2 separate regions of the Homo sapiens genome follow, and region 2 is linked to region 1. A link means that fine-mapping ties the variant in region 1 to the expression of a gene that starts in the linked region. Tissue or cell type: testis. Region 1 holds a variant in brackets; the other region holds the start of a gene. All regions are shown on one strand. Distances are between the middles of the regions.

Evidence for each region. PIP is the estimated chance that this variant, and not a neighbour inherited with it, causes the effect. A credible set is the group of variants that fine-mapping cannot tell apart.
Region 2: C1orf87 starts here. The variant in region 1 is the best candidate, but not a certain one, in a credible set for the expression of C1orf87 in testis (GTEx, PIP 0.70).

Annotation. Positions count from the first base shown.
Region 1 is chr1:60,006,385-60,010,652 of GRCh38, forward strand. It overlaps C1orf87 (chromosome 1 open reading frame 87), which reads right to left. Exons shown (of 12, transcript NM_152377.3): 9 at 4,008-4,072. Among named protein-coding and RNA genes, the nearest start is that of C1orf87, 65 kb to the right of the region's middle. The variant C/T (reference allele first, on the strand shown) is at 2,319.
Region 2 is chr1:60,072,006-60,076,117 of GRCh38, forward strand. C1orf87 (chromosome 1 open reading frame 87) reads right to left here and starts at 1,765. Exons shown (of 12, transcript NM_152377.3): 1 at 1,685-1,765; 2 at 532-665. The coding sequence starts at 638.

The DNA.
Region 1 (4,268 bases):
TCCCTTCAACAGAAGTAGTTCTAATTAGTAACTAGTATGAGTATTTTTTTCCTTAGTAAAAGGGAGGCCAAGCCTTCACCATTTTTCTGTTTTCTTGAGTGATAGGTCTTCAAGAAATGTTTGAGGGGTGTCAATGAGCCTCTTACGCTACTCCTCATTTCCTTTGAATTTTCCCTTGTCAGCAGTCATACTGGAACTCTGCTCTTTGCTTTCTGCATCCTCTTCTTCTTCTCTCTTGTTCACAGGCTCCACAGTGAAGAGATTCAAATTTGAGATCATACTTCATTTTTGTGAAATACTATTTTAGACTTTAGACCTTACCATGTTTAGAGGGGCCTAAGCTCTTTTTATATGTGTCTTAATGGGAGTTCATCATATTTCTTAGATCTGTGGCTTAAGGTCTTTTACTACTTTCGGAAGCTTCTCAGTCATAATTGCTTCAACTTCATCTTTATTCTCTTTCTCCTATTTTTCTTTGACTTCAGTTACATGTACGTTAGATGTTGTCACCATTTCCTATGTGTCTCTTGCATACTTTTTTTTTTCTGACAGGGTCTCACTCTTTTGCACAAGCTGGAGTGTAGTGGCATAACCAGAGCTCACTGCAGCCTCGATCTCATGGGCACAAGTGATCTTTCCACCTCTGCCTCCCAAGTAGCTGGGACTACAGGCATGCACCTCTATGCCTGGCTAATTTCTTTATTATTTGTAGAGACAGGGTTTCACCTTGTTGCCCAGGCTGGTCTCAAACTCCAGGGCTCAAGTGATCCTCCCACTTAGGCCTCTCAAAGTGTTAGGACTATGGGTGTGAGCCACAGCACCCAGACTCTTACATACTTTTAAATGTGTTACATCCTAATTTTTCATCCATGCTTCAATCTGGATATTTTCTATTGAACTATATCACAGTTCACTGGTCCTCTCATCAGCAATGTCTAATCTGTTAAACCCATCTACTGAGCTTTTAAATTTTAATTTTTATAAATTTAAGTGTAGATATTCCATTTGATTCCTTTTATAGATTCAAATTCTTTGCTGAAAATTCCCCATCTTGTCATTCATTTTCTTGAACATATTAATTACAGTTATTTCAAAATCTATGTCCTGCTTTACATCATCCATGGCAATTTTTAATTGAAGCTGGACATATTGTATGAAAAACTTAAGAGATTTTGTATGATACCTCCTTTCACAGAGAGCTTTTCTCCCCCTTCTGTCTGGTAGTTCAGTTTGAATTCCAAGTAAGAGTCTTCGAACAAATATTCTTTTGGATTTTATCTAATCTTCTAGTTATTCTTGCCAGGAGGTTTGGCTTGCTGGAAAGTAGACTCTCCTTGTCATTAGTGTAAGTCACAGATATTAAGTATTTATGTGAAAATTATATGTACATTGAAAAACAAGTTCCCAGGATTTTTATGATTCTTAATGATATAAATTTTCTAATAAAGGCAGTATATATAAAATGAGTTATTTTAATTAGGTTAGTATGGCATCTTTGAGTGCAGAGAGGTCCTAGGAAAGAGAAAATTCACAGTTCTACACACCCATAAGGAGTATCTTTTTTAAGTTTCTGTATAATGCCCCTCCTTCACTTTGATAACATTTACCTGTGGAGCTAAAGAATAGACAGAAAAAAATGGCTCACTCAGTGCTTAAGAGCATTTAGTCATCATAGATCCAGCAGTACAGAAACAAGAAGAGACCAAGACATTGACTAAGTAAATAAGCAGTGAGCTATCACAACAACAATGCAACAGCAACACTACCCCAACTCTGTAGTTCTGGAGAGTGACACGTTGCCTATAAAAATTAGTGATGTGTTGCCTATTTTGTTTGTCAGACTCACAATCACCCTATAAGATCAATAGGGCAGGTTTGCATTTTTCTTTTATATTTTGCCCATTTTAGATATGAGAAAAATGAGTCAGAGAGAAATAAAATAAGTGTCCCAATATAAGTTAGTTATTTAGTTGTGTGAGACTTCAATTTATCTTTTTACATATTTTTCTGCTATTCCATATGCTATGGTCTTAATTGTGTATCCCCCACCCCAAATTTATATGTTGAATCCCTAATCTCAAAATCTGACTGTATTTGGAGGTAGGGCCTTTAAAGAGGTGATTAAGTAAAAATGAAGCTGTTAGGGTGGGCTGTAATCCAATCTGACTGGTGTCCTTACAAGAAGAGGAAATTTAGACCTATAGAGACACCAGGGATGCACACACACAGAGGAAAGCCATGTGAGGACACATCAAGTATCCACCTAGCATCAGAAGAGCTACTGCTATAATGTTTTTCAGCATTCTCAGCCCTAGCCA[C/T]GTGTGAAACCTCAGGTCAGATGAACAGCCACGTGACATCACTTCAATGGTCTCCTCATTGAAAATATGATGCTTTGTAAGAGATCCAAGTGCAGCCACCTTCTTAGAGCCTTAAATTATGTCGCAGTCCAAGAATCAGCTGTATGGAATCCCCTCTGAAATCCTTCCTCCAGCTGCTTGGCATTTCCGTGGAGACCCTAGAACCATCTGTGTGGTGACACTAGCTACTAGATTCTGATAGTAATACCCCTTCCTCTATGTTCCCTTAGCCTTAAGGTGGTAGCTGCTTTCTACAGTTACTAATGTCTGGATTACCTCCCTGTAGTGGATTGAATTGTGTCCTCCTCAAAAATATGTTCAAGTCCTAATCACTGGTACCTGTGAATCTGAGCTTATTTGGAAACAAGATCTTTTCAGATGTAATCAAGTTAAGATGAAGTCATTCTAGATTAGGGCAGGCCCTACTTGGAATGACTGTTGTCTTTATAAGATAAAGAAGAGGAACACTTGGATACTGAGATATATAGAAGACAGAAAGAAGAAGGCCTTGTGAAAACAAAGGCAGAGATTGGAGTTACACAATAACAAGCCAAAGGAGGCCTGTGGCTGCTAGAAGCTGAAACCGGCAAGAAAGAACTCTTCTCTAGAGTGTTCAGGGAGAGTCTGGCCATGCGTACACCTTGATTTTATATTTCCAGCCTCCAGAACTGAGAGAATAAACTTCTATTGTTTTAAGCCACCAAGATTGTGGTATTTTGTATGGCAGCCCTGGGAAATGAATATACTCACCATATTCTTTTTTATCCCTCAGCTTTGGATACTTACATAACCAATCCCCTGTAGTAAATTCCCTCTGCTTGAAATACCTAGTAAAGTTTCTTAGGTTTTTCCACTTGGATACAGACTGATATATTTAATCCCGGACACACACACACGCACACACACATGCGTGCACATTCAGTACTTTAATTTTGATCCAAAGGGCAATCAGTAAATGGTTGATGGATATAGTAAATAGAAAAACTACAACAGCAGATTAATATCAATGCATATTTTTTCACCTGTCATATTTAAAACTTGCTAATTGCTAAATATTTTCCCCAATGCATCGTTACAATTTTCACTTAATAATATGTCTTGGAAATCTTCCTGTAGCAACCCAGCCATGTTATTTTACAACTGCATCGTTTTATCAATTGGTTATATTGTAATTTAATTAAATAGCCCACGAAGGATCTTTCTGCTATTTCTGTTTTTAAAAATGTTTACCAAAAAAACCTATACACTAAACATATATATACATCTCACAGGTCTTTTTTTTTTTTGTGGAGACATCAGTGGAATAAATACCTAGCTATGAGCTTCTTTGATCTAAGCGACTGTGCACCTGAAATTCTGCTAAATAATACTAACTTCCATAAATGTACTGCATTCATCTATAAGGGCTACCACTAGAGAATGTCTCATGATAAAACTTGGAGAATTGTGCCTTTTATGATCCAACTGGCCTAAAAGAATAGCCATTAAGGTGATTCTAACCCCCATTTTTCCTTCACTGGGGAGCTATTTACATTTCTGAGAGAAATGAGATGAAACCCAACAAGCAAACCACTCAAACTAGGCAGCATAGTCAACAATAGCTGTGAAAAATGGAAGGTCTCTCTGGAGCAAAAAAATAATGGAACTCACCTGTAGGCAAATCAGATAACAAATCAGAAGAAGCTCTGGTCAGCATCTCAACAAAATTCTGCCATCTGTGCAAGAAAAGGAAACATAAATTGGTGATCAATATGATTGCCCTGAAAGAATGTCCAGTGAAGCTCTGTTTATATTGGTAGTGATATTGAATAAGCTTTTTGATACTTCTATCATTTAAGGTCCAATGCAGGAAACAGAAACTACTTTGTATATCTTTATTAAAAAGGGCTTTGATATAGGGAATTATTGCAA
Region 2 (4,112 bases), 66 kb after region 1:
ACAGGAGTGTCATCTCTTAAATGTGACTCTGATGGGTTTGGAATAGAAGAAAGAGATCTTAGCCATGATCTGAGAAGCCCAAGCTTAGAGGAGTATCAAATACAAACAGGAGTAAGTGAAAACCTTACAATTTATGATTCTGTATTAATCCTACTCCTGTAATTCACAACAAATTGACTATTAAACCTCCCCCACTCTCCCCAAAATTAGTACATGTGGTAGATTACAAGCCCGATGAGAAAAGGCAGCAGTGCTCCATTAATATTTATAAATGTCGCAATGCTCATATTTCCCATCTATTTGGAAAATCAGCCCAAGTAATTAAGGAGTATGGGGAATTATAAAGATGAAAAATATCAGGAAAACAGTGCACATGGAAGTTATCAACACGATTTTACCTCTACTGTTGCATCTTAATGACTTCGTTTTCCATGGATGGCATTTTTTAAGTTTAAATTTCTGGGTGAAAACAAAACAATAAAACTTCATTATCATCCAAGCAACATAGATATTTTTCAAATATGGACTTACATCTTTGGCTTCTCCACGAGGTATTGAAAGTGTTTACTTCCAATGATTTTCACCATGATCTCAGGCATTGCATCTGATCCACGGGGAGTCTTCCAGGCTGAAGACATGATTCCTTTCAAAATCCCTTCAGATCCCTAGGGGTGAAAATAAGTAAATTGTTCCTCTTGATTTTCCATTAGGGAACTGCATCATCCTTGCCAATAACAACAAGCAATAATAATAGCAGGACAAAGTGTTTCACCTATATTACCTCACTTAACACTCCTAACAAAGGCATGAGAAAGATATTTTTAACTACTATTATCATTTTTGTTTTACTGTTGAGGAAACAAGCAAAATGTAGCTATATGACTTACTCACATCACATCACATCACCAGTAATTAGCCGACTTGGGAATCTCACCTAAGAGGTCTGTACAGCAGATCTACTGAATCATTAGGTGACTCTACCTTCCTGTACTACAAGACATAGGATGGAATTCCAGTGAGGTCAGAGCAGAAACAAGGGCATTAGTGGGACATATGAAGAATCCATATTCAGTTCTGATGTTTAGTTTCCCCATTTATGAGATCAGGGTAATTCTAGGTCTGTTCTCAGGGACTTGAGGGTGAATCCAAGGAGATAATGCATCTGAAGGGAGACTGTACACAAGACAGACAGACTTTTGTTGTTATCACTGATCTCTTTCTACAACAATACAATGAATCTGAAATTGAACTCCTGCACAAGGTGTTTAAACAGAGTGATGCCAAGGGAAAATCAGAAGTTCAGTAAATCTGGCCACAGCTGAACACTCCCTTTTAGAACCACCCAGAGGCTGAAAGGCCTTTAGAAATCATTCTACTCCAAAGGCTCCTTCACAGATTGGAAAACTAAGGCCCAGAGAGGGTGTGTTATTTGACAAGGGTCACAGAGGAATGAAGGACGGGACTGTTTCCAGTACTTGGGTCTGATGTCTAGGCCAGGGTTCTTCCCAAAAGTCCAATACTAAAGACCTGTGCTAGGGCAGCCCCTCATCCCGGGGACCTGCAGCCTCTTTGCACCTGTCTGGAATCTTCCAGACCCGGAACTCGTGATCCTCAAATCCCCTCCCTGCCCAGCAGCTGCGTGTCGGCCCTGATTGCCCGGAGAGAACAGAGTCGGGGGGCTTACCGCTAGGGCAGCGTCCCCACCCTGGCAGCTCAGAGGTGCGCGGTCCGTGCTTCTCCCCAGGAAGCTGACACTCTCAGACCCGGGGACGGGACGGGGCGTGGGGACCGAGCCCAGGAATCCGGCCAATCACAGGGCCCGCATCGCGGGCGGCGCCTGTTCCGCCCTGGTCGCTAAGGACGCTGAAGGCTGTTTCTGGGCGGGGACCAGGTTTTTCTCCACTGCCTAGGCAATGGACCCAGGCTCTGGCTGCCAACGGGTGAAGAGCCTAGGTGTTTTTGATCTGTGCCTTCTCTGTTCCTCAGAGATATGCGGGCGTCCTTCTAGAAGCCCATCTCGCTCACCTGTGTGGTCACCCTTGTCCCGCCCTTCCTCCGAAGGCTTCATTTCCCTTTGTGAGTTTGCACATAGTTGAGATTCCAACACAGTAGGTTCAAATCCAGACGTCTCCACTGTATGGCTTGAGTAAATCCCTTCTTTTCCCTGAGATTGTTTCCTCATCTGTGAAACGGGGCAAAATAATAACACTGTCCTAACTGCGATTTGGTGACTAAATTAAATAAGAATATCGGCCGGGCTCAGTGGTTCACCCCTGTAATCCCAGCACTTTGTTAGGCCGAGGTGGGCAGATCACGAGGTCAGGAGATTGAGACCATCCTGGCTAACATGGTGAAACCCCGTCTCTACTAAAAATACAAAAAATTAGCCGGTCGTGGTGGTGCGCGCCTGTAATCCCAGCTACTCAGGAGGCTGAGGCAGGAGAATTGCTTGAACTTGGGAGGTGGACCTTGCAGTGAGCCAGGATGGTACTACTGCACTCCAGCCTGGGCAACAGAGCGAGACTCCATATCAAACAAACAAAGAAACAAAAAAACCAGAATATTATAGATTGATAATAATAACGTTGAGTACTGTCTCTATGCCAGATCCCTATGACAAGCTGGATAACTCTCACCTCACAAGTTAATAGTTATAAACAAAATAGTTTTACTTTATTTTAAAGAGAAAAGAAACAAGTTGGGGTATTGATAAACTACTCCAAATCCTGCAAAAGCAAGTACAGAGCTAAGATTAGAATATAGATCTGCATATCCTACATTTCCAGACAGTTGTTATTATGCTAAAAGAAACTTCAGCTGATGCAGGCAAAGACACTTTAGATTGATTCCCAAACGGTATTGTTATTTGCATCAACATAGGCAGCAGCAGCTCCAGCATCTGTTCCCCTGTCTCCTAACCTCTAGCTGTACTGTGCTTTACAGGTGAATATATCACCCACTGGCACATGCAGCCAGAGGTGGACAGCACACTCAGCTCCCCTCCAGGGGCTCACTCTCTAGAGGGTGAGACACACAGCCACATTCTATGATATAGAAAGTGTTAAGGGAGCAGAGAAGCGGGGACAGCTCCCTTCTCACTCCTCCCTCCTAGCCTTCACGTTGCTTCCAGATCAGTCTTCCCAAGGCCCAACTCTGACAAGCCCCCTCCTCTACTCAAATGTCTGAAAGATCTCATCAGCCACAGCAGGTGTCTGTGGTTTCAAGACCTTCCACTATCTGACTTCAAGCTAGATCTCTAGCTTGATCTCCCACTACTTCTCCTAGGCTTGTTATGCTGCATCCAACCCAGTCTACTCACTGGCTTGAATCTCCCTTTCATATCTCTGCCTCAGTGCCTTTGTTCACTTTGTTTCCTCTGCCTATAATGCCCTTCCATTTCTCACTGTGTCAGCCTGCCTATCCATTCTTTAAGTTGGATCTCAAATGATATGTGAACTTGGGAATCAGACACTTTGAGTTCAAATCCTTGCCCTGCTAGTTCAGTGTAATCTTGGGCAAATCACTTAACATCTTTGTGCTTTAGTTTCCTCTTCTATACAATGAGGATGACTTTTTGTGAAGTTTAAGCGAGTTATATAAGAAAGGAACTTAGAAGAATGCCTGACACATAACGAACAATATAAATGTTTGCTCTTATTTTGGAAGAAGCCAAACTGGATTCCAGAGCTGAAAGTGGCTTCTTCATCTTATCTATAACTTGTGGTTTCTCTCTTAGGAAATATGTGTGTCTTTGTCTGAGAGTGTGGTATTTATTTGCTTTGTTTGTCCGGGCTTCTCGTGCTATGCTGTAGAGGGCTGAATAATGCCCCTCCCTCAAGATGTCCACCTTTTAATCCCCAGAACTTGTGAATATTACCTTCCATGGCAAAAAGAACTTTACGGATGTGATTAGGTGAAGGAACTTGAGAGGAGAAGATTATCTAAATTTTTCAGATGAGCCCTAAATGTAATCACGAGTGTCTTTATAGGAGGGAGGTGAGAGAGATTTGATGACAGAAGAGGAAGTAAATGTGACAATGGAGGCAAGAGGGTACAGGGATTTGGGGAAGGGATCATGAGCCAATGAATGCAGACGGCCTCTGGAAGCTAGA